4 linked regions of the Homo sapiens genome follow. The protein of the gene in region 2 purifies or fractionates together with the protein of the main gene of each other region. This does not show direct contact. Each region holds a gene or a part of one and is shown on either strand. Other genes may lie near its edges.

Region 1 (7,031 bases), on a different chromosome or scaffold from region 2:
GCCTTTGCCCCTGCCCCACAAAGTCGTGTAAGATCTGGCCCTACCCATCCCAACCCTGGGGGCCACTGTGCTCTGTGCACCCCTGCCCTGAACACACCCAGCTCGCCCGGCCTCCAGCTCCTGCAGATGCTATGCTGTTCCTCTTCCTGGAGCTCCCTTTCCCAGACCTCCTCATCTCCCTCAGCTGCCAGCTCAAATGCCGTCTCTCCAGGACGTCCTTCTCTGCAGCCCCGCGCACTCCATCATCCTCTGTCTCCATGGTGTTTCTTGAATCAGAAGCGGTTTGTTTTGGCCAGGCATGGAGGTTCACACCTGTAATACCAGCACTTTGGGAGGCTGAGACAGGAGAATCGCTTGAGCCCGGGAATTCAAGACCAGCCTGAGCAACATAGTGAGGCTTCATCTCTCCAATTTTTTTTTTTTAAATCAGCCAGGTGTGTTGGTGTGCACCTGTAGTCCCAGCTACTTGGGAGGCTGAGGTGGGAGGATCACTTGAGCCCAGGAGGTCGAGGCTACACTGAGCTATGATCGCAGCACTGCACTCCAGCCTGGACAACAGAGTGAAACCCTGTCTTGAAAATAAAGGAAGAGAAGAAAAGAAACAAGTTTGTTTATGTTCTTGTGCACTTGTTTCTCATTATTACTCTAACTGAACATAGGTCCCATGAGAGGAAGGGCCCCGGCACATAAGAATCACTGAGGTACTAGATGGATAAGTGATTGAATGAATGAATGATGGATGAATGAATGAATGATGAATGAATGAATGAATGAATGCAGGCCTTGGGCTGGGCTAAGAATCCAAGCGGGAGGCATTCTCACGTGGCCATACCATGCTTCTGTTCTGTGGTTCCATTTCCTCTTTCCATTCTTTTTGTGCCTGTTTTTGATAGAGTCCGTGTGTGAGGCATCCCCGTACCTCTGCCTGCCCCTTCCCAGCAGCATGGCTGTGGCTGCACTCAGAGCACCCCTCTGTCCTGGCCACTTCTCTCCCACCAGAGCCTCTGTCCGTGATGGTGTCAGCTGAAGAATGACAAGGTTTGTTCATTTGGAAAGGAGAGCCTCATTCCTCATAAAGGGTTGCAGCCTGTGGGTGGCTATTCTGACAGGTTGGGAAGCAGAGCCTCCTGCCAGAAGCCAAAAACAGACACTTCAAGGGAGGGGCAAAGGCAACAAGAATTTATGGATATTGGTGGCCAAATATACATATTCAATAAGCCGTAGGGGGAGTCATGAGTATTTATGAAAGGAGAAATGTGCACATTCACATTTAAGCCTTGTGCTCCTTCAGGGGTCCCATGTACAAAAAATGGTGGCAGTGGCATGATTCAAGGGTAGGGTTTTCTTTCAGCCCCCTGATGCGTCAGAGGCGAAGCAGGGGACATGAAACCCTCGCTGTGCATCCTCTGTAGACTGGCCAGAAACACTGCGTGGTCGGTGGGCTCCCGTCAGGCAAAGAGGAGGGGCAGCGTCTGGCAGTGGTAGAGGCCTTTGAAAGGGAACCCAGCTTTTTAAGAATCAGAAAAGTCATTCAGCAGCGCCCTTTTGATGCAAGAGACTATTCCCAATTCTCGGGATACTGTCAGCACTCGGCACATGGTCTCTGTTATGGTGGGGAAGGAAGGGGAGTCAGCTGGAGATAGCCGTGGGCAGTGGCCATCAGCCATGGGAGCAGAAGCAGCCCACGGTGGCCTCAGGCCCAGGGAGAACTTCCTAAGGGGCCAGAGTGAGCTGTCACAACTGGTCCTGGATCCACCATAAGAACGAAGCCGTGGGGTGTGGTGACCTGGAGCCGTCGGTGATGGCTGTAGCAGGGGCGTTTTGGTCAAGTTGCGGGAGGTAGGGAAATAGGCGTGTCGGGCTCTGTAGAGAAGTTTCTATGAGAAAGGGAAGGAGTTGCTGTGGGATGCAAAGCAAGGGAGGGTGGTTGTTTTGGGAGTGGAGTGGGGGCCGGAATAAACCCAAAGAGACTTGAAAACTAACAGAAATAAGGAAGCTAGCAAGTGCATGGGGCGCATTGGGGCGGGAAAGACTGGTGTGGTGTGAAGGGACTCTCTGTGGATTGGGAGAAGACCCACTTTAACCTCCAGAAGAGGAGGAGTTGATGGACAGTGTGCATTGGATGGGGTCCTGAGGGATTCCTCCCAGGCAGCCCCAAAGCCAGAGCCTGTGGCTGTTAATGTGGGAGAGGGAAGGAGGATGGGCCCATTGTCCAGATGCCATGTGCAGAAGGCTTCCCCTCGAGTTTTGGGGCATGTTGGGAAGGAAGCAGGATGGAATAAACATGCAGCAAAAAAGCCTAAATTGTATTTCTTTGTACTTTATAAGAGTATTTTCCCCCGCCCCTTTTTTGAGAAAAGGTCTCGCTCTGTCTCCTAGGCGGGAGTGCAGTGGTGTGATCACAGCTCACTGCAGCCTCGAACTCCTGGGCTCAAGCAGTCCTCCCACCTCAGCCTCCCAAGTAGCTGGGACTACAAGCAGGTGCCACCACACCCAGCTAATTTTTTTTTTTTTTTGTCTGTAGTAGAGACAAGGTTTGATTGTGTTGCCCAGGCCGGTGTGGAACTCATTGAGCTCAAGCTATCCTCCCACCTCAGCCTACCAAAATGCTGGTATTATAGGGGTGAGCCACCATGGCTGGACAAGAATATCTCTTGAAGCAAGTTCCCAGACTCTGGCCGCCAGGCCCGCTATTCCTGTCAATGGCGTTTTGTTGGAACTCAGCCACACCCATTCCCATCTGCATCGTCTGTGGCTTTCAGGCTTCGTGTGTCCCACAAAGGCAAAAGTACTATCTGTCCCTTTATAAAGTTCAGTCACCCTGACTGAAATCATGGTGTACTCACTGTAACAAAATTCCAGTTGAAACCAGGGTAGTGCAGCAGTCCATCGAGTGTTTCCTGGTGTACCTGTGTGCCCATAAAAAGAGGAAGCTGCAAGGATCAAGTTCATAGAGCTAGAGCCTCCTGCTGTGAAATTTTTCTATTGCTAAGAATTGGTTGGCACCCAAAATTTGTCCTTTAAAAATATGCATCAGTTATGCCTTGTTGATGGTGTGGGTGGTTTGTAACAAACTAAACCAGGGCTGGGCTCAGTAAAAGTTGTGTAAGTGAGTGAGGGAGAGATGCCTTCATTCTTGGTGTTGGAAGTGCCGACCTCTCCTTTCATCTGGGATCCATGGAAATGGGACCTTGGCTGCCCCTGGATGGAGTCCAGGCGCTCTCCTTCCCAGGGGCCAGAGAACACCTGTGTTTCCCAGGACCTTGGGGACCTGTGCCCAGTTCCCCTGGGGAGAGAGCGGTTTTGATCACTCGCACCAGGAATGACTCGAGTCAGAAGCAGGTGACTTTGACCTGTTCTGTTACCTAGAAAATGAGGCCACTTTGGAGCCAGGCAGCTGTGCACACAGCCAGATTAGCTTGGTGTGTGCTGAGTAGCCACGAAAGAGCTGAGTTGGGGACATTGAGTGACTTCGTGTCAAACCCTGTGGTGGTCCAGCACACCTTCCCAGGACCACAGACGAGGCTGCCACCACAGCAAGAAAATTAGGATCTGACAGCCTACCAGCTAACTACACACCCTCCTGACACGTGAATACACACGTGTATGCTTTTATCTTCTGAAACAAATCTAGTCAACATTTAATTTTTTAAAACAATTTGTTTTGAATATATCCAAATTCAAATAGAAACAGACCTTCTTCTGAAATATATAAATAGTTGATATGAAGCATAATCCAGACCGGTATTACATTTGGTTCAATTCCCAATTCCATGTGGGGCTCATGGAATTGGGAAGGCCGCTGGCCGAGTGCTGAGAAGTTTGCATATTTGCCTCCACGCCTGTCACTTCCAGCTGTGGGACCCGGGACAAGCCTGGGGTCTGCAGGCTTCCTGTGCTTATCTGTAGAACAGATGCCTTGCGGCCCACACAGCAGGGAGGACCTGGGGTTGGGTGCCCAGAGGCAGCTCTGGCTCTGGCATTTCTCGGTGTGAAACCCACTTCCCCTCTCTCAGCTTCTTCTGTAAAGTGGGTTGAACTCAGCCTCTGCTTCATGGGGGGCTCTGGGGAGCGGAGGAGCTGAGTGTCTGGCTCACAGCAAGCCCTGGGTTTCTTTTTTTTTCTTTTCTTTTTTTTGAGACGGAGTCTCGCTCTGTCCCCTAGGCTGGAGTGCAGTGGCGCGATCTCAGCTCACTACAAGCTCCGCCTCCCGGGTTCACGCCATTCTCCTGCCTCAGCCTCCTGAGTAGCTGGGACTACAGGTGCCCGCCACCACACCCGGCTAATTTTTTTTGTACTTTTAGTAGAGACAGGGTTTCACTGTGTTAGCCAGGATGGTCTCGATCTCCTGACCTCGTGATCCACCTGCCTCAGCCTCCCAAAGTGCTGGGATTACAGGCGTGAGCCACCGCTCCTGGCCTAGCCCTGGGTTTCTAGTAGCTTCTACAAAAACAAACGGCCACCAGGTCCTCAAACCCCCTTCTGGCCAGCCTCGTTGGTAGCCAGCTGTCAGCCTCTCATATCTAGGGAGGCATCAGAATGATCTGTCGCTCCTGGTTCTTTTTAAATTCCATGGATTGAGATGCTGGGGGCCCACCTAGAAGGATCGTGAGTCACCTACTCTGGCTAATGCATGCCACAAGTCGCCAAAAAGGTCACCTTTTTGTATTGTTAGACTCCCCCCAGGTAAACATAAAGTGTACATTAGAATGCTCAGTCTAAAACAGCTGGGCTCGCTTTGAAGTAAGCAGCCCAGCCGACCGCATGAGCACTAGCAAGACGACCCTGCTATCGGCACAAAATAGTTGGCCAAAGAGCGCCGGTACCAGCGGTGTGGTTGGCGGGGGTGGGGGGTTGTTTGTTTTTTAGCACACTTTGGAGTCCTAAAATGACAACCTCAGGTGCTGAAACAGAGCGTAGAGAGAAAGAACGCCAGGACTGGTGACTTTCCTCTTCTCTTAGCAACTCGCCTGTCCAGGGGCTCACGGGAGCCTCAGAAACCGTCTCTGGGCTGCCTCAGGCCACTGTGCCCTGGAAGCCAAGCCTTTCCCATTGTTGGATGAGAGAAAGCTTTAAGGGTGGGGGTGAGCTGTGCCTTCTATGGCAGAGGAGACTCAGACAAGAATCAGACCCAGCATGCGGCTCTCCTGCCTTCCTGGTGACGTCATCCTGACTGGCTCAGAGCCACACGCTAACCATGTGTGGCCTCATTTATAATTAGGATGGCGCCAGAGTCGCTTGCATGACACCCAGTGGCAGTCATGTGACTTGGCACAGTGTACAGGACTAGCAGGCCTGCTGTCTTGTGCTAGCCAATTTGATTTGTTTCTTTAAACCAGAAGTGTGAGTTTGACCCCAGCCTGGGGTCCCCCAGATATATTAGCCATATGTTCAATGCCTGTCCCATCCAGCCCCCGTTTTTAGGAGGGAATTGAGTCCCAAGGCGGCCACGTGGTTGTTCCAGCCTCAGCTGGGACTTCACTGTCCCAGCAGGGCTGTCTGTCCTATTACCTCCCCTCTGACTTCCTCTGTGGTTAGTAATCCCTGTCCTAAAGACACAGTAGAAAGTTCTTGCAGCTTTGACGTGGGAGCAGTCCCACCAATTGTGGAAACCGTTTTCTCATGTTGCACAGTCCTGGGGGAGGTCTGTGCATCTCCTGGTCACCGTGGTTCTTGGTGGTACACCCTGTCTCTGACCAGGGCCTCTTCTGTTCTCTGTCTTCTTCTCCCTGGGTGGTCCCTGCCTGAGTCCCCCAGCCTTCTACCCGCGGTGCTCTCTAACTGGCCAATGTCAGCACCGCACACTCAGCAGGTCCAGCTCGCCCTCCATCCGTCTCGGCCTCAGGCTATGGTGTCTATTTGGTGAAATGCATTCGTTTCTCTCTGGTGTCCCCAGAGAGTGGGAGTGGTGACAACTCTAATCCATATTCACCCTGTCTGTTAGCTTCCTGGGGCTGCCAAGACAAATGACCACAAACCAAGGGACATCAAACAACAGACACCTGTCCTGTCACCATTCAGGAGGCCACAGGTCTCAGTCAGGGGTCCCAGGGTGGCCTCCGTCTGGAAGCAGTGGGGGAGAAGGGGTTGCAGGCCTGCCTCTCCTAAGCCCCACTGGCTCAACCCTCCTTCTTTTCCTTGGCTTGTTGCCGCATCTGTCCCGTCTCTGCCTCCGTCTTCACACGGCCTTCTTCTCTCTGCCTCTCTGTCTGCTTTCTCTTCTTATGAAGACGCCAGTCCTTGGTGACTTCCTCTAATCCAGAGGGACCTCATCTTAATTCTATCTGCAAAGACCCCATTTTCAAGTAAGGTCACGTTCTGAGGTTCTGGGTGGATGTGGGCTTTGGAGGGAGACACTGGTGAACCTGGCACGCTCTGCACATCATCTCTTTTCTCCCGTGAATCCTGGCAGTGATCGATTTCAGGGGACATTTGGTAGTAGGCCAGGGAACATGGAGAATAGAGAGCCCATGGCCATTCCTGCGCCGTCTGCTGGAATTCTGCGGGGAGCAGAGCCTGCCCCACTCCCTACACTGTCTCACGCTGTGTGCCTCTTCCTCTGCAGGCCCTACTGAAGATGGACTGCCAGGGCCTGGTGGTCAGACTCATCCAGGACTTTGTGCTCCTGACCACGGCTGTAGAGGTGGCCCAGCGCTGGCGGGAGCTGGCTGAGAAGCTGGCCAAGGTCTCCAAGCAGCAGATGGACGCCTACGAGTCTCCCCACCGGGACAGGAACGGGGTTGTGGACAGCGAGGTGAGCAGCGGCTGAGCTTCGAGCTCACCGAGCCCCTCTGTCCCTGGGTTCCGTGGACCCATGCAGTGCAGCCATAAAAAGTCTTGCCTCGCGGCATTTCTGTGAGGGTGCAACAGGTGGAAATGTGCACGCATGTGCCCAGCACTGGGTGTGCCTCACTGAGTGGGAGCCATCCTCCGGATTGGTTGTCGTGAGCCCTGGCTTTAGGATGTCAAGGCTGTTCCACACGACATGGGAAGGACAAACAGAACTGCCTGTCCCTTGTTCATTTTGATCT
Region 2 (4,923 bases):
ATTTTTACCCATTCCCTCCTTGTCCATCCCAACAGTAATTATGATTAGGCAAATACACAGCCCACCCCATCCTCAAAGACAACTGTAATTTGGGCCAGTCTCAGCAAAGCTGGAGAGAGGAGTCAGCATTGGTTGATCTAGAGGCAGGCTTGTTTCTGGCCTTCCACGTTGTAGTGGAGGGGAAGGGAAGGAGGGACGCTAGCTTAGTTACCAGGACACTCCCCCTGTGCTGCTCCCACACTGTCTGTGAGCAGCCCCTCCTTTTGTCCCTCCCAGTCTTGCTGGAATGAGTACCTGACAACTCGGATCGAGCAGAACCTTGTTTTGAATTGCACCTGCCCCATTGCCGACTGCCCCGCCCAGCCCACCGGAGCCTTCATTCGTGCCATCGTCTCCTCGCCAGAGGTCATCTCCAAGGTATCCCCTCTCGTCTGAGAGAGGCTCCAGTGCAGAGCCAAAGGAGTGTGCCCCAGGGAGTGGGCTGAGCTATGGGGTGCTGGGGGCCTGGAGGTGTGGCATCCTGGAGAGCCATACCCTCACCTCGTGGCACCTGCGTCTCCACAGTATGAGAAGGCGCTCCTGCGTGGCTATGTGGAGAGCTGCTCCAACCTGACCTGGTGCACCAACCCCCAGGGCTGCGACCGCATCCTGTGCCGCCAGGGCCTGGGCTGTGGGACCACCTGCTCCAAGTGTGGCTGGGCCTCTTGCTTCAACTGTAGCTTCCCTGAGGTGGGAGCCCCACACTGGCCCTGACCCTGAGCAAGGATTCACACTCCTTCCCTGCTTAATATCCCCACCCCGCCACACACACAGACTGTGACTTGTCCTTCCTCAGCCTCTGCCACCCAGTTGAGCTCTGTTCCTCTTCCTGGAGCCCTCCAAATGTGATCTGTGCCTGCTCCCCTCTCTCCTGTGCACACCAGCCATGCTGCCCTCACGGCTCAGCTGTGTCCCCACCATGCCCTCTTGCCTTAGGCACACTACCCTGCTAGCTGTGGCCATATGTCTCAGTGGGTCGACGACGGTGGCTACTATGACGGCATGAGCGTGGAGGCGCAGAGCAAGCACCTGGCCAAGCTCATCTCCAAGCGCTGTCCCAGCTGTCAGGCTCCCATCGAGAAGAACGAGGGGTGCCTGCAGTAAGAAGGGGGGTACTGTGGGGAGCCAGAGGGCAAGGAGGGGGGAGGAGGCCTGGCAGAAGGAGGGGGGAACGGGCTTAGTGTAAAGCTCAGCAAAAGAGGGTGGTTCCTCAGCCGCCCCTCACGTGGCAGCCTCCACGGTGACTTCCTGGATCTTAATGTTCCTTCTCCCACTCGTAAGTCCACACTGACTGGGGGAGTTCAAAAGCAGAGGTGCATTCAGCAGGGCTGGGTATGACTAAGGAGACTATCAGGGCAGGAGCAGAGGCCACAGCATCAACAGCGGTACATCTGGGCCCTTGGCATTCCTGGCACACCCCTGCCCAGAGGCAGGAGTCCCTGACCAGCCAGCTTCCTCCATAGCATGACCTGTGCCAAATGTAACCATGGATTCTGCTGGCGCTGCCTCAAGTCCTGGAAGCCAAATCACAAAGACTATTACAACTGCTCTGCCATGGTAAGGCGCTGGGCACTAGGGGAGGGCAGAGGCCCAGAGCCGTCGGGGAGGGGTGCTGCTACCAGGTCCTGGGCAGACAGGGCTCCTTGTGCAGTGCAGCATTCTAGCTGTTGGGATAGAGGCTCACTGTGGGGAAGACAGAGCCACCTGGGCCTGCAGATGCTGGAAAGTCTGTTCACAGGGACCTTCAGCTCCAGAACAGGACTTCTCATACCGAGGTGGCTACAGAAAGGCTGGGGAGGGCTGGGCACTCTCAGAAGGCAGCAGGGCAGAGCAGGAAAGAGCAGGGACCCTGCATTTAGAGCCTGGCTCTGCTGCTTAGCATGTGGCTTTGAGCAAGTTCATTTACTTCTCCAAGCCTCAACAGCCTCTGCAAAAGGGGTGAATAATATGACCTACTCCACACAGTCATGAGGACTGAATGAAGATAATCGGGGGAGGTGTAGAAAGGCCTCCGTGAATGTTGGCTTTTCCACTTATTAACTCCCTCCTGTCCAAACAAAACACCCAATAGCCCTCCCAACGTATCCTTGCTAGGTAAGCAAGGCAGCTCGCCAGGAGAAGCGGTTTCAGGACTATAATGAGAGGTGCACTTTCCATCACCAGGCGCGGGTGAGTCGGGAGGAAACAGCGGGTAGATGCCTGCAGAAGCAGGTTGGGGTGGTGGGGTGGAGGGGGGTGGGCTGAAGGTCTGACCGGGCAGGTGGTGCTGCGCCACCTGTGCTGGTACTGATACACCTTCCTCCACACAGGAGTTTGCTGTGAACTTGCGGAACCGGGTGTCTGCCATCCATGAAGTGCCCCCGCCCAGATCCTTCACCTTCCTCAATGATGCCTGCCAGGGACTGGAGCAGGCTCGGAAGGTGGTAGCGGGTGGGGGAAGAGAGCAGGGGAGGGGTGTGCCAAATGGGTCTGGGGGGCTTGGCTGCTTTCATCGGACTTGCCTGGGTGAAGGGAATGAGGAGAGGGCAGGCGGGAGAGCTGATGGGAGCCCCTGCAGGTGCTGGCCTACGCCTGCGTGTACAGCTTCTACAGCCAGGACGCAGAGTACATGGATGTGGTGGAGCAGCAGACAGAGAACCTGGAGCTGCACACCAATGCCCTGCAGATCCTCCTGGGTGAGCCACCCCTGCCAGCCAGGCCCTCCTCCTGCCTCCTCCCCTCTGTTGCACAGCCCGGCCCCTCCCAGACAGGTCAAGCGGCACCCTTACCTTCCCTCTCTCCTCTTCCTCTTCATTCTTCATGGCCTTCTCACTGCCTGGCTGTTAAAGCTCAGGTCGAAAGCCTACATTGTAAGGTGCCCAAGGGCGCAGATGTTCGTGGATGTTTCTTGGTTTCTGGTCTTTACCCTGCTCCCCTAGGGAGCTTCATGAGAATGTCTAGAGCTGCACCTGGTGCTTGGTAGACGTTCCATAGGTGTTTGTTGGAGGAAGGAATGGATGAGAATGAGAAGGGAGGGAGCCTCTGTGCCTGCCCCCTCTGCAGAGGAAACCCTGCTGCGGTGCAGAGACCTGGCCTCCTCCCTGCGCCTCCTGCGGGCCGACTGCCTCAGCACGGGCATGGAGCTGCTCCGGCGGATCCAGGAGAGGCTGCTTGCCATCCTGCAGCATTCTGCCCAGGTACTGCCCGGCCCAGACCCCTTCTGCTCCTGCATTCTGCGGGAGTTGAGGTCCTCCTGTCCCAGCACAGCCCCTGCCCTGGGGCGAGTCCAGAAGGAAAGGCAGCAAAGCGGGTGAATGGATGTTAGACCTGGGCGCACATCCCGGCTTTTGGGCCAACCTGCCTGATGCTGCTGGACCCTATCACTTCACCTCCTGGGGATTCCTACAAAATAAAGGGGTTGGCTAGCCCACATCAAGGGTATTTGGTCAGGTGCCTATCAGAATCACTTGGGGAACTTTTCCAGACTGTACTTCCCAGATAGGGATTTGAAATCCTAAGAGTGGGCATCAGGGGATTGGGGTCACTGGAGCAAGGGCTCTCCCAGGCTCTCTCCAGCTCTAATGCACTGATGCTGAGTCTAAACTGTGAGTCCTGTCCTCAGGTTGCTTACTGACTGGTAAGTCACATGGGCAGAAAAGACATAGATTCTGTAAGCTCTTTAAGCACAGGGTCGTGTGCCTCACCTGGTACCCCGTATCCCTGGAGACCATCTGTGGGTGAACTCACAAAGGCAGTGTTTCATGAAGTGCTGTGCTGGGAGGGGAGCAGTCCTAGCAGGAGCTTGGCCCTCCCAGAGCATCAGTGGAAGGAATGCTGGGTCCAAAGGCCCCATGCCCTCTACCTCCTTCTCAAATCCTTCTGTCTGCTCACCAGGATTTCCGGGTTGGTCTTCAGAGTCCATCAGTAGAGGCCTGGGAGGCAAAAGGACCCAACATGCCTGGCAGTCAGTAAGTGGGGTGGGCAGAGCCATGGAGGAGGCAGTGGGACATGGCAGCCTCCTCTGGGCTGAGTGTGGTGGCTCTCCCTAGGCCCCAGGCCTCCTCAGGGCCAGAGGCAGAAGAGGAGGAGGAAGACGATGAGGATGATGTGCCCGAGTGGCAGCAGGATGAGTTTGATGAGGAGCTGGACAATGACAGCTTCTCCTACGATGAGTCTGAGAACCTGGACCAAGAGACTTTCTTCTTTGGTGATGAGGAAGAGGATGAAGATGAGGCCTATGACTGAGGGGGCAGATGCAGGAAACACCTAGAGCAGCCCCAGAGTCACGGGGCTGAGGGGGCGGGAGCTGCCCCTGTCATAGGGAGGGGGATTCCCAGCGTCTGTAGTGCTTCCTGTTTGCTGAATAAAGGTCTCTTTCTCACACACATCTCTGGGAGCAGGCTGACAGCTTCACCAGGGGCCAGCCAAGTTGCCACTGCCCTGGCCTCATATCTACCCACACCCCTCATCTTTATGTTTCCTTTAGACCTCCGGACTCTTCTATCCTCCGAGAAGGCTCAGAGCAGATTCATTTGACTTAAGCTGATAAAGGGAAGTGAAGGTTGGCATGGAAAGGGCCACGTGCAGCCCCAGCCCAGTTCAGAGGAGACAGAGAGAGGGATGGCCACCCACAGGAGCAACCATCCTCCCAACTCTTTTTTTTTTTCTGAGATGGAGTTTCACTTTTGTCCCCCAGGCTGGAGTGCAATGGTGTGATCTCGGCTCACTGCAACCTCTGCCTGATGGGTTCAAGCGATTCTCCTGCCTCAGCCTCCTGAGTAGCTGGGATTACAGGCATGCACCACCATGCCCAGCTAATTTTTATATTTTTAGTAGAGACAGGGTTTCCCACATTGGCCAGGCTGGTCTCGAACTCCTGAGCTCAGGTGATCCGCCCGCCTCAGC
Region 3 (7,031 bases), on a different chromosome or scaffold from region 2:
TGCAGTTCTTGGTTTTAACAAAACCAAAGAACCCCCCCAAAAGTAGGACAAAGTATACTTCCGTGAACCATGCATGAACTAATTTTTTGTACATCCTAACTGATACTTTAAAATTTTTGGCCAGGTGTGGTGGCTTACGCCTGTAATCCCAGCACTTTGGGATTCCGAGGTGCGTGGATCACCTGAGGTCAGGAGTTCGAGACCAGCCTGGCCAACATGGTGAAACCCCATCTCTACTAAAAATACAAAAATTAGCTGGGTGTGGTGGTGGGCACCTGTAATCCCAGCTCCTCGGGAGTCTGAGACAGGAGGATCGTTTGAACCTGGGAGGCAGAGGTTGCAATGAGCTGAGATCGCACCGTTGTACTCCACCCTGGGCGGCAAGAGTGAAACTCCATCTTAAAAAAAAAAAAAAAAAAATTGCCAGTCTGATGCATCTCATTTTAATTTGCATTGCCCCAGTTATTAGGGAAATTGAACATCTTTTTATTATTATTATTATTTTCATAATAGAGATGAGGTCTCACTGTGTTGCCCAGGCTGGTTTCAAACTCCTGAGCTCAAGCGATCCTCCCTCCTAGGCCTCCCAAAGTGTTAGGATTACAGGCATGAGCTACCGTGCCTGGCTGAAATTGAGCATCTTTACTGACAATTTGTTTTGTTCTTTTATGAATTGCTTTATATCCCTTGCCCATTTTATTTCGTTGTCTTTTTAAATTGATATATGCATGTTCTGTTTTTCCAGTAGTATCCTTTGTCTGCTGTATATGTCACAAATTCTTCCCATTCTATGGTTGTCTTAATTTTGTGGGTTCATTTGTCAAACAGAATTTTTTTTTTTAAAAAAAATGGAGTCTCACTCTGTCACCTAGGCTGGAATGCAGTGGCACAATCAGCTCACTGCAACCTCCGCCTCCCAGGTTGAAGCAATTTTCCTGCCTCAGCCTCTTGAGTAGCTGGGATTACAGGTGCACACCACCAAACCCAGCTAATTTTTTTATTTTTGTATTTTGGTGAGGTTGGTCTTGAACTCCTGACCTTGTGATCTGCCCGCCTTGGCCTCTCAAAGAAAGAGCTGGGATTACAGGCGTAAGCCACTGTGCCCAGCCAAAACAGAAATTTTTAATTTTGATGTAGCAAATGTATCAGTCTTTTTTTTCAGTCCCTATTTTTTGTTTCTCTACTGTATTTTCTCATTGTCCTGCAATTACTTATCACTCACCATATAAATATTTGTACCATTACAAAGCTGCATTTAGAAGATGCTCCTAGGACTTGAAGTTAGATTTCCTTTTCAGGACTTTAGTATGATTTTTGAACATTACAATCAGAATGGTTAAGAATGAAACTTTATCCCTCATTTCAACTCTAATTTGGATAACAGTGCTGTAAACTTGGGCTTCTTTTATGAAGAGATTCTTTAAAAATTTTTCTTAGTTATTTACTATGGGAATATGGCAAATTATTCCAGAACTATAGGGAACTAAAATGAATAAGCAGATATGATCTCTGGTCCTCAAAAGGCTTAGAATTTAATTGAGGAGACAAATAATGGACACGAAGCCATTCCAGGATACTCTGGGGTAAATCAAGTCGTCCTGAGAAGTTCTAGAGGAATTCAGGGGCAAAAAAAGGTAGCAATGTGCATATGTGGAAGTGTTTAAGGAAGGGATAAGGTCTGGAAGCAAAGAGACCATGGAGGAGACTTTGAATTCATCCAGACGAGGAGTGATAAAGGCACAGATTTTGGGGGAAATGAAAGATTACACGATGGCTCACACCTGTAATCCCATCTCTTTGGGAGGCTGATGTGGGAGGATCATTTGAGGCCAGGCCAGGAGTTCGAGACCAGCCTGGGCATCATAGTGAGACCCTATCTACAAAAAAACTTAAAAATTAGCCAGGAGTGGTGATATGCACCTTTAGTCCGAGCTACTCAGGAGACTGAGGCAGAAGGATCACTTGTACCCAGGAGTTCAAGGCTGCAGTAAACCTAGGATTGCACCACTGCACTCCAGCCTGGGTAAGGGAGCAAAACCATGTCTCTCAAAAAAAGAAAGAAAGATGACTGGCAGATAGTCAAAATCACTAACAAATAAGTTGTTCAATAAGAAAAGAGGTTGGTCTTTTTGTTCGAAAAACAAAAATACTCATGTTGACTTAAATGTAAACTGGTTGTTTTGATTTCAGTGATTTCGAAGCATGATTGAAGATTAGTATAATTCTGTCTTCTTGGGTAGACCAGTTCTTTTAGACCTGGTGGGTTTTTGCACTTAACTTTTAAGATCAATCATTTATTAAAGCTGTGTTTTTAATAAATAAAAATTATTTGAAACACCTTATAGTTGTGCCTGCATTAGTTGGTTTATTGAATAACTTAGGCAATCTTCCACTTTGACTGAAATGATTAAGATCAGTTTACCGAAAGTCATTTCATCCTTGCCTTGCAGGCATCTGGCTATTCTTGGTGCAGGGCTGATGGGAGCAGGCATCGCCCAAGTCTCCGTGGATAAGGGGCTAAAGACTATACTTAAAGATGCCACCCTCACTGCGCTAGACCGAGGACAGCAACAAGTGTTCAAAGGGTAAGCCTGCTCTCTCTCTTTGCAAGAGTTAGAATGTCCTTTGTTTCTTGGTTAGTTGTTTTTTGTGGTGGCTTGGTGGGTTTTTTTGTTTGTTTGTTCTTGCCATCACGGATTCCTTTTTCCTGAACATAATGAGTTCTAGATACTCCGTAGTGAAGCCAAGTTTCTTTTGATTTTTAGAAATGCCAATTCCTTCTTTGACTTCGTTTTGTTATAGATATCATAGACAATTAACATCCTTGGAGTCTGTAGTCTTTGAATGCAGAAGGGAAAATCTTATCTAGTAGATACTTGTTAATGCCATTTTACACTTTCGTATCAGGCCTGCGGATTTTGATATAGTTTGCAGGTAATTGCTCTATTGTTAAGGATTATTCAAACAGCATGACTGTCTCTGTTGAGAAGACTGAGTGAGGTTAGGATGTAAGGAAATGGGCAGTAACTGCAGGGGGAAGGCAGGGCCGGGATCAGGACTCTTCAGACTTTTATTTCCTGACTGGCATTACAGAGAGAAGCCATGAACTGATCCCTCCACAGTGTCTGGGGCTTTACAGACTATCTCCATCTTACCTCTGAATTAATAAAGGGGGAATATTATTCCCCTTCCTCACCACCTGCCTCTCTCACCATCACACACATGCTGCCTGTTTTGCAGAGGGGAAGGTGGAGCAGCAGCTTGGCCAAATGGAGGGTTGGTTTGATCAGTTTTCTGCTCACATTTAATGGACAAGCTGGCTGCACTTAAAGCATCCTGCATGTGACTTTTAGCTGAGTGAGCTTTTTTGTTTCTTAAATGGATTAGATAGCTTAAGCATGTTGTTATCCCTTTTCTGCAGAGAAGCTCACATATTGCTGCCATAATGCTAACCAGGACCTGGCAGGTTTCATCGTGTTGGCAGATTATTGTAAGATAACAAGTTGTAGTAGAAGATTCTGACCAAAAAAATGATGTGTGCTAGATAGCAGCAGTGCCCTGAAACTAGCATGCAAGCATCCCAAACAGCATTCCATACCATCACCAAAGTAAGAAATTGTTGCTCTAAAATAGTTTCCTCCCCCAGTCTCTCTTGAATAGTGTCCTGGGTTCCCCTTTTCGTCTTAGAAACATCAGGTTCTGGCGAGTGCCGCTCACCACACTGCTGACTTGGGACAATAGTTCCTGTCCTCTCTTGGGAATAGTTTAATCAGGCATTAGAATTAGAGCAACTGATAATGTTTTGAATGCTGACAAGTATCTTGTTTGCTGACTGCTGTCATGATTGTCAAAAACAAAAGCTTTGAGCCCATACTTTTAAGACCTTATTTGATGTTTTTGTTTCTTTTGAGACAGTCTCACTCTATTACCGAGGCTAGAGCACAATGGTGCAATCTTGGCTCACTGCAACCTCTGCCTCCCGGGTTCAAGCGATTCTCATGCCTCAGCCTCACGAATAGCTGAGACTACAGGCATGCGCCACCATGCACAGCTGATTTTTGTTTTTCTTATAGAGACGGGATTTCACCATGTTGGTTAGGCTTGTCTTGAACTCCTGGCCTCAAGTGATCCGCCTGCTGCAGCCTCCCAAAGTGCTGGGATTACAGATGTGAGCCACCATGCCCAGCCCTTAAGACCTTCTTTGAATACTCCTTTGTATTTATCTTGTGGCCTTAATTTTGCTTTTGGTTAAGGAAATTAGTGAATGGGGTTTAGCTTCATTCTTCATTTAGAGGAAAACTGTAGGTAATTTATTCTGAAAGTGTGGTCAGACGGAATCTAAGAGAACCTGTTTCCCTTGGCGACGAAAAATAATCAGTTGAATGTCTGAATAACAGGAATCCTTTTCTGCTCCCTATGGGAAAAAAGAAACCTTGAGTTAATATTTTATGTAATCAGTGCAATGTGCTACTAGGTAATGAGTGGGAAGTAGATGGAGAATATAGGAAATAATGCTTGGTCTCTGTTCTTTAGAAGATTACAACCACAGGCTGGGCGCGGTGGCTCACGCCTATAATCCCAACACTTTGGGAGGCTGAGGCGGATGGAACACGAGGTCAGGAGTTCAAGACCAGCCTGGCCAAGATGGTGAAACCCCATCTCTACTAAAAAAAAAAAAAAAAAAATTAGCCAGGCGTGGTGGTGGGCGCCTGTAATCCCAGCTACTCAGGAGGCTGAGGCAGAGAATTGCTTGAACCCAGGAGACAAGAGGTTGCAGTGAGCTGAGATCACGCCACTGCACTCCAGCCTGGGCAACAGAGCGAGACTCCGTCTCAAAAAATAAATAAAAAAAAAAAAAGATTACAACTACAGAATAACATAAAATTATATATTTGCGATAAGCAAATATAAACCATGTGGTCTCAGACACACTTTGGCTGCTTCCCCTGTCATAGGTAGAGAATTACCAGAACTCCTCTTTTGTTTTGCCATTCTAGTATTCATGTTATTTACTCCTCTTGGCAAATTTAACTGGTTTAAGAGTGATTTAGTTTACGTAAATTGGGCATTTGGAGGCATTCTATGGTAGAAAGAATGTGTACTTGGGAGTTAACATGTCTTTGAATGCTAGCACCCTCCCTTATCAAGCTATTTGACCACAGGTCCCTCTAAGACTAAACAACTTGAAAGTCTCCCTCAAAATGGGAGTAATAGAATAACTACCTCACAGAGTTGGTGAAAAACACAGGTGTGCTCTGGCCCATGGACATTCAATAAACGTTAGTTTCCTTTTCTTCCCATCTAACTAGGAATGTGTTTTTTCTAGATTGAATGACAAAGTGAAGAAGAAAGCTCTAACATCATTTGAAAGGGATTCCATCTTCAGCAACTTGACTGGGCAGCTTGATTACCAAGGTTTTGAAAAGGCCGACATGGTGATTGAAGCTGTGTTTGAGGACCTTAGTCTTAAGCACAGAGTGCTAAAGGAAGTAGAAGCGGTAAGCAAGGGGCTGTTGTACTTGAATCCTAGTGTAGTGAACAGAAAACACAGAGATTTTTTTTTTAAAGGAGCTATAGGAAACTCATGATTGCTTTTATAAAAAGGACTATTCAAAGGCTGGGCATGGTGGCTCACGCCTATAATCCCAGTAGTTTGGGAGGCTGAGGTGGGCGGATCACGAGGTAAGGAGTTCGAGACCAGACTGGCCGATATGATGAAACCCCATCTCTACTAGAAAATACAAAAATTAGCCGGGCATGGTGGCACACACCTGTAGTCCCAGCTATTTGGGAGGCTGAAGCAGGAGAATCACTGGAACCTGGGAGGCAGAGGTTGCAGTGAGCCGAGATCACGCCACTGCACTCCAGTCTGGGTGACAGAGCGAGACTCCATCTCCAAAAAAAAAAAAAAGACTTTTTGTTATCAAACGTTAAGTTTTTATGTGTGCTCATGCACACTGCATATGTTATAAAGGTCAAATCTAAATTCTAAAGGAAGAAAATGAGGGTGCGTTCACCTTATTCATGTAGGAGCTCTGTCACCCAAACATACAGATAACCTCACAGAGTATAGCCAGATGCTTTGAGATTTTTTGGTTAGCCGAAAGCCAAAAACAAACCTCTTCAGGTCTAAGGCTGCAAAGGAAATAGGGAAGACAGTTCGTCCAGATGCTTGTTCTGTGGAAATGCTGCTTTGGCCCAGCTCCCAAATGTTCTCCATAGGCACTTCTTGAGATGGGCTGACATGAACAAAACAAGTACTTGAAGTGGGGAGTAGGAAGAGTAAGCCCCGAGAAGGAGTAATAGCAGTAATTCAGGGATGAGGTAGGACCAAGGCCTAAGCTAGTCTACAGTTGGATAAACAGAATGTGGGTTACTGAAAGGTGAACATGAAATGATTCTGACTTGGCAACATGCTGGATATAATGAGCAGTGAGCTCATTACAAAAAATAAGAGTACCACAGAGCAAAACTCCGTCTCAAAATAAATAAATAAACAAACAAACAAACATTATCTTCTCTTATTGCCCATAGAGCTAACAAAACCCATTCCTTGGACAATCTTCCACAGGCATGATCTCTAGACCACCCCGTTTCGGTTGTCCTCTCTAGTATCTTCCTCATGTCTCCGTGTTCTACTGCTGTGTTTACAACTATCTTTTCACAATTCTGCAATCTGGGCAGGGCTCTGCAGAGACAGTGGTGCTTAAGTCCATTGATTTCAAGGCTGGGGTCACTCCTGGGCTGCATTCCGCAGGAAGCTCGGTTGGGGCACCTCACTGCTTCCCCCACATCTCTCATAGTCCATCCTCACTTAGTCGTCTCACCACAACTTCTTTGTAGCGTGGCTGCAGGCTTCCAAGAGAACAAAAGCAGAAGCTACTGAGCTTCCTAAGTTTATTGTCAGGAAGAAAAAAAGATAAATAATTTAAAAAATAAAAAAAGAGGCTACCGGGCCCCACAGGTCTAGGTAGGCCTGGAACTGGCAGGGTAACTTCTGCTGCATTGTGTTGATAAAAACAAGTCACAAG
Region 4 (7,031 bases), on a different chromosome or scaffold from region 2:
CATATCTAACACACCTATCAATCCTAATCAACAAGATTCCTTTTCTTTTTGTCAGGCAAGTCAGATAATCTCTCAAGTAGGTACAGCCTTTCTTGATTACTAAAAAAATAAAAACTCATACCCTACCCTAAGGCCACCTTCCTGAAGTCTCAGGGCCTCTACTGCTGCTGAATTTTATATTGTAGCTTTTCAATTTTTATCACAAGCTCCTTCAGGAATCAGGATTTAGTTTGTGATTTAGAAAGTTCTGGCCACTGCCTGGGGTCATAGCTATTTCTACCACTTTCCAGATGTTTGCCCTTGTGCAAGTTAATGAACTTTTTTCACCTACATTATCTATGAAAAGTGAAAAATAAAGAGTACTTTTCTTGGTTTTCCATGGTGGCCCATGCCTGGAAGTTACCCCAGCACTTTGGGAGGCCGAGGTGGGAGGATCTCTTGAGCCCAGGAGGTCGAGGCTGCAGTGAGCCATGATTGTACCACTGTAATCCAGCCTGGGCAAGAGAACGAGACGCTCTCTGAAGAATGAATGATATACAGCACTTGGGCAGAATAGTGGTTGTCCCTGGCAGGGGTGAGTAGCACAACGAGGTCAGAATTAACTAGGAAGGGGTATGAGGAACCTCTTGTGATGCTGGAAATGTTCTATATTGATATGGGTTTGAGTAATATAGATCTATGTATTAGTTAAAATTCAGTGAATATACACTTAAAATTTGAACATTTCATTATGTAAATTTTACTTCAAAGAAAAACTACAGACAAATATTTAATCAATGTAATGAAATACATGCTGAAATATTTCGGAGAAAGTATGCTGACGTCTGCAGTTTACTTTGAAATACATCAAAAAATAGACTGACGGAGTGATAGACAGAGGGTGGAGTGATAGATACATGATGAAGTTAGTACAGTAGAATCATAGACTCTAGGTGGTGGGTAAACCAATGATCACTATAAAATTCTTTCAACTTTGCTGTACATTTGAAAAGTTTCACAACAAAATGTTAAAAAAAAATAGCACCTGATACAGAGTAAGCACTAGTCAATGATGGCAAATAGCTATTTTCAGCTGAAGAGGGATGAACGGGGGTTCAAATCACTGAATCTACTATAGATCTGTCAGGAAGGAAAGAGACTGCTACTTTTCTCATAAACCTTCATCCCAAATCACGATTTACCTAATTTAAAAAAAATTTTCTTTGGCATCTTTATATAAAAATGAATTACTAAAAAAAAACCAATTAACAACACATGATTCAGGTAGTTCTAGCTAATAGAGGTGACACATATAGGGAAAGCAATGATCAGAACAGGGTAGAAAGAGAAGATAAAAAGCAAATATAATTTTACTGTATGACAAATCTCCCTCAAATAGTTTTCTATTTATTGAATACTTCTCTATTTATTGAATACTTCTAATGATGTGCTATTTTTAAAAAATCCAACTTCCTAAACATATCTAAAAGGTGCTGTTAACAAATTCTGTTTTAGTGCTGAAAATGCTTCAATTTGTCATGTCTGATGAGGCAATATTAAAATATCAGATGATTTTATACAGCTCATGAGCTATAGGTGGAGGAAACTGAACAAGACACCATATGTACGTTGAGCTCCACAAGGTTAGTTGACTTAGGACCTGCAACTTATCCACCCAACAGGACTAAGTGCTTTCAGCAAGAAAGCAGACGTACAATAGGAAATGGAAAGGGAAAGGAAAGCTGGATGTGGGGTGGTAAATGCTCCTGGGAATTAACTTCAGGTTTCAGAATAATTGTTGGCACTCTTCCCGGCCTTTATATCTGGGTAAGATATTAAATATTGGCTTTAGGTACTGAATATCTGAAACATTCCTTATGCCTTTTGAATATACTCACAGTTTCTTTTCAAATACTTCACTTACTTGATTGTCATTTTCATTATCTTTGATAACCAAATACCTCAATAAATTTAATGAAGCCATAATCCTGTTAATTAAAAATATATGTTACTTACAGTATGGTTTTATATAGTCAACAGCAATCTCAATAAGCTAAAACTTTGGTCATATTTTTATAATTAGGTTTGCCAATAGAAACTATTTCCATTAATATCTTTTTGAGTAGTAATAACTTATCACTGTTTTCCATTTGTTTAAATCATACAATTGTGAAAATTATCATCCTTGTTTAAAGAAAGCCTTGTTATCTTTAATATTTGAGAGCATCATCTCTTGCTTTCTGAATTTTAAGATTACTTTTTAAATGCTTTAAACCATTTCTCAATATCCATTCCAGTATACTGAAACTGAAATTATATGTTCTATATGAAAAAAAAAATGACCTGGAAAACAATAAAACAACAAAACCTAAACACATAAATTACATACACAGATTTTTAGTTTTAAGTCACAAGTGCTGTCATTGCAAATTTCTATGGAATGCTGGGTACATAAAAGCTATCAAATCATAGTGCTGGTCATTCATCTAGAAAGAGGAGGTTTTAATTTTGTTTCTACACATTATCAAATCACTTAAATATGAAAAATCTTTATGTAACTTAATGAATTAGCCATAGATCATAAAATCACAGGAAAAGACATTTTATTACTTTAGGTTCCCTAAGCAGATGTTTCACATTTTATTCTGAATTTACTATGTGAACTTTGGTAATGGTCACCTCACCTATCTGAGTTTTGCAGTAAATCTGTTTCTGCACCCTCTGGGAGAAAAAGTACCAAATCAAGAAGGGAAATCAACTGTGGTCCTGTAAACCATTTGTTGTTACGTGTTCTCTGAAAAGCAAACGAAAAATTGAGAAAGCTTTATAATTCATGTAATTCATGTGTTTTTCTAATACCTTGACACTACAAAAATGAAGAATTGCACATTTAAAATACAGTTTTTAACTTTAATTTCCGTACTTTCATTCACTTTCCAGACACCAGGAACGAACCCTGCCAGTTTGAGAACACTGGTCACTCTGTTTTCCATTTAGAATTACTGAGCACTCAGAAACAGAAGAGACTTAAGTTTCCATTCATTTTTGAGAAGCATATAACAAAGCAAAAATAAGCCACAATATCAGCTCAAAGAGGCCCAGAGTGATGACTCACACCTGTAATCCCAGCATTTTGGGAGGCCAAGGTGGGTGGATCACTTGAGATCAGGAGTTCAAGACGAGCCTGGGCAACACAGTGAAACTCCATCTCTACAAAATCAAAATTCAGCCAGGCGCACTGGTGGACACCTGTAGTCCCAATTACTCGGGAGGCTGAGTTGGGAGAACTGCTTGAGCCCAGGAGGTGGAGGCTGCAGTGAGCTGAGATCATGCCACTGCACTCCAAGCTGGGTGACAGGCGTGAAACCCTGTCTCAAAAAAAACAAAAACAAAAACCAAAACCTCAAAGAATACAATTTAAACTTATAGTTAACTAAATTTCCAAATTCAGAGTTTTTAAAACATAGTAGAAATAGGGGAAAAAATATGCCTTAATAATATTTAAGTAATAGTAATACTAGAGATAGAGCAATAACTCACATTAATGTATTCTACATATGAATAAATATACCCTACGAAATAAATTGGTAATTGACACTTTGGCTATGTTCTTACCTTTAATGACATGTCAATTTGATTTTTGATATTTTGAATAATAAAAGCCTCCACACCTGAGTGATTACTTGTATTCAATAAGCACCTTGAAAGCAAAATTACAATAGATGTGAAATTATCCTGGACAGCATTAGAATTAAATGGTGATAAAAGTTTTACAAATTCAAAGAGGCCATGTGTTACTTCTAGGAATAAAAACCCCACAGTAATGGTAATTAGCAAGGTCATCAACCAATTACAAAGTCACCTGTAATAGTTATTGCTCTCACTAAATGGTAAATTCTTATTTATTTTATTTTACTTTTTTAGACAGAGTCTCGCCCTGTCGCCCAGGCTGGAGTGCAGTGGCACAATTTTGGCTCACTGCAACCTCCGCCTCCCGGGTTCAAGCGATTCTCCTGCCTCAGCCTCCTGAGTAGCTGTGATTACAGGCGCCCGCCACCGTGCCTGGCTAATTTTTTGTATTTGTAGTAGAAACAGGGTTTCACCATGTTGGCCAGGCTTGTCTCAAACTCCTGACCTCGTGATCCGCCTGCCTCAGCCTCCCAAAGTGCTGGGATTACAGGCATGAGCCACCACACCCGGCCGGTAAATACTTATTTATAACTGGATCTTCCAACAAGCCATTTCTATCAAACCAAAATTTGAATATTTTTATGAACATAGTTACAATAATTTAACATGGCAAGAAAGGGCACTAACATAATGGTCTAAAAAATCCCCAAATTATTTCCTGTGAAAGTAGTCCAGTGCTAGAGTAGCTTAATTGCAAAAAAAAAAAAAAAACTAGATATGACTAGCTTAAGAAAAAAAGGGGATTTATTGGTAGAGATACACATAGAACAGAACAGGAAAGCCGGTATAATACCTAAGAATTGAGATTTCATAAACTTGCTCTTACTATCAATAGAAAACAAGAAAAGATAGAATCAAGAGTGTTGGCTGGGCATGATGGCTCATGCGTGTCATCTCAACACTTTGGGAGGCTGAGGTGGGTGAATCGCTTGAGCCCAGGAGTTTGAGACCAGCCTGGGCAACATGGCAAAACCCCATCTCCACAAAAAAATTAGCTGGGCATGATGGCATGCACCTGTAGTCCCAGCTACCTGGGAGGCTGAAGCGGGAGGATCACCTGAAGCTGGGGGGCCAAGGGTGAAGGCTGCAGTGAGCCATGATCACACTGCTGCACCCGCCAAAAAAGAACAGTACTAATATTGGCCAATCCCAGGTAAGACATTTTAGCAAATCCAGCCTGATGCCCAATTTTATCAATAAAGTTTTACTGGAACACACCCATCCCCAATACAAAGTCAAAGTTGAGCACTTGCAACAGAGACTGTATAGCCCATAAAACCTATATTTACTATTTGGCTCTTCACAGAAAATTAATTAGAAAGTTTACCAATCTTTAACTTAGAGAGTTGCTAGAATCTTATCCACCTCAAAGAGCAGTATTAGTAAGCTCTTACTATTAACATAGTGCATAGCCTATCAAAGTTGTAATTCCAGAGCCATCAATTTGAACTGTGAGTAATGGAGATTAGTGACATACATAAAGTTCCAGCAGGAGCATCATCAATCTCAGTTTAATTATTTTTAAGTCTATTTCAAATTTAGAGTATTCCAATTGATTGAACTGCAATATATACTATTAGTCATACAAAATATAGACATATATATAGTATGTCTGAAATATTTGATTAACCCTTTCTCTAGCCATCACTGAGAATTTATAATATGGGTTCCAACCAGAGTTGAATTACATGTAAAACATACCGACATACTATGCCCTAAAACAATTACATGGCATTAACATGACTTTTAATCAACCACACACTTAGCAATTAGCCATGCTTGATACATACCTAAATAATGTATATTTGCCTTGTGAATCCAACTTGTTAATATACAGCTGAAGCATAGCTAAACTCTTTTTCCTCTAAAATGGAACAAACAATATTATTATATAAAATGAATAAAGCTTACCCAGACTTCATCACTATCCATTTTATGCATGTAATACATCCACACTTGTACCTCCTAAATAAAAATTTCACAAATTAAAATTTTTAAAAAGAAAATTAAATTATTTGTCAAATTTTCTCACTGTAACTCATTATTCTTTAGTCACCAAATATTTACATACCAGTGTCTCAATGGGGCAAAGTGTCATTACTTTCACTAAGCCCTGGAAATAAAAAAATGTAAAATTCAGATGTAAACAGATTATACTGACTGCAAACAAACAACTATAATACATCAATAGGATACTAAAAATTCAGAGAAGTGAGGGTAGGAGATTTAAAAGTGAAGTAAATTAATTTTTCCCTAAGCCTTCCATTCCAGAAAGCTAACTACAATTGATTTTTTAAGTGATATTGAGTAGAGTGTCACACAGTGTACTTTTAAAAGCAAACGATAATTTTCAATTATGTCTACAGTGGCAAGAAAATGAAATCAAATCTACAGAAATATAATTTATTAATTAAAAACAATCAAACAATATGTTAACAAAAACCATGTTTTTCTATTTAAATATTAGGAAAACCAGTTCCCACACTGAAATCTAAGGATTTCCTTGGATATCATAACTAACAAAGAGGATTGGGCAAAATAAACCATAGGAGGGAAAAACACAATGTGTATTAGTCTTTCTGGTAATGAGTCAGTGGATGCCTTAGATGGAGTCCTGAGAACTTGAGTTATGAGAAACATAAAGAAGCTTCATTTTCCAAGATCCCTACAGAAATAAAGTGTTAAAAGAAGAAAGTTATGCTTTTCTACTGGATGCTGTGCTATCAATAATGGTGGCCTCTAATAGCTATTCGTGTTTAAATAAATTAAAATTTAAATTTGAAACTTAGTTCCGGCTGGGTGTGGTGGCTCACACCTGTAATCCCAGCACTTTGGGGGGCTGAGGCAGGCTGATCACGAAGTCAGGAGATCGAGACCATCCTGGCTAACACAGTGAAACTCCGTCTCTACTATAAATACAAAAATATTAGCTGGGTGTGGTGGCGGGCGCCTGTAGTCCCAGCTACTCGGGAGGCTGAGGCAGGAGAATGGAATGAACCCAGGAGGTGGAGCTTGCAGTGAGCTGAGATAGCACCACTGCACTCCAACCTGGGCGACACAGCAAGACTACACCTCAAAAAAAAAAAAAATAGTTCCTTAGTCACATTTCAAGTGTTCAGTTTGGCTAGTGGCTTTCATATTGTCAAAGTTCTACTGGACAGCATTACACCAGAGTTTTCAAAGGTTGCAGAGAAAAGAGTGGGAAAGGAATCAGAAAAGACCTTACTTTAAGTTCAGAACAGGCAAAGGGCTATTTTCAATATTAGAATACATATTTTATTTACCTGAGGTACAGTAAGAAAACTCTTGATTTCTAAGTACTGGTAAAGTAGACTATTGTCTTCTATTCTCAATAAACTATT

Evidence for each region.
Region 1: the proteins of CUL9 (region 2) and SH3BP4 purify together in Homo sapiens (affinity purification with mass spectrometry; 2 studies listed by BioGRID and IntAct, with this or other methods). This does not show direct contact.
Region 3: the proteins of CUL9 (region 2) and HADHA purify together in Homo sapiens (affinity purification with mass spectrometry; 2 studies listed by BioGRID and IntAct, with this or other methods). This does not show direct contact.
Region 4: the proteins of CUL9 (region 2) and GLMN purify together in Homo sapiens (affinity purification with mass spectrometry; 4 studies listed by BioGRID and IntAct, with this or other methods). This does not show direct contact.

What each region holds. Positions count from the first base shown.
Region 1 is NC_000002.12:235,045,997-235,053,027, forward strand, and holds part of SH3BP4 (SH3 domain-binding protein 4), read left to right. Parts: intron 1-6,565; coding exon 6,566-6,754; intron 6,755-7,031. UniProt on the Homo sapiens protein: May function in transferrin receptor internalization at the plasma membrane through a cargo-specific control of clathrin-mediated endocytosis.
Region 2 is NC_000006.12:43,220,183-43,225,105, forward strand, and holds the end of CUL9 (cullin-9), read left to right. Parts: intron 1-276; coding exon 277-417; intron 418-564; coding exon 565-729; intron 730-975; coding exon 976-1,139; intron 1,140-1,502; coding exon 1,503-1,596; intron 1,597-2,110; coding exon of another isoform or gene 2,111-2,133; coding exon 2,134-2,208; intron 2,209-2,348; coding exon 2,349-2,459; intron 2,460-2,596; coding exon 2,597-2,714; intron 2,715-3,081; coding exon 3,082-3,215; intron 3,216-3,912; coding exon 3,913-3,986; intron 3,987-4,067; coding exon 4,068-4,263; 3' UTR 4,264-4,405; downstream 4,406-4,923. UniProt on the Homo sapiens protein: Core component of a Cul9-RING ubiquitin-protein ligase complex composed of CUL9 and RBX1. The CUL9-RBX1 complex mediates ubiquitination and subsequent degradation of BIRC5 and is required to maintain microtubule dynamics and genome integrity.
Region 3 is NC_000002.12:26,199,616-26,206,646, reverse strand, and holds part of HADHA (trifunctional enzyme subunit alpha, mitochondrial precursor), read left to right. Parts: intron 1-2,342; exon of another isoform or gene 2,343-2,450; coding exon 2,451-2,585; exon of another isoform or gene 2,586-4,327; coding exon of another isoform or gene 4,328-4,414; intron 4,415-5,326; coding exon 5,327-5,498; intron 5,499-7,031. UniProt on the Homo sapiens protein: Mitochondrial trifunctional enzyme catalyzes the last three of the four reactions of the mitochondrial beta-oxidation pathway.
Region 4 is NC_000001.11:92,260,960-92,267,990, forward strand, and holds part of GLMN (glomulin), read right to left. Parts: coding exon 6,954-7,031; intron 5,783-6,953; coding exon 5,741-5,782; intron 5,635-5,740; coding exon of another isoform or gene 5,581-5,634; intron 5,534-5,580; coding exon 5,460-5,533; intron 3,680-5,459; coding exon 3,595-3,679; intron 2,774-3,594; coding exon 2,664-2,773; intron 1,968-2,663; coding exon 1,904-1,967; intron 1-1,903.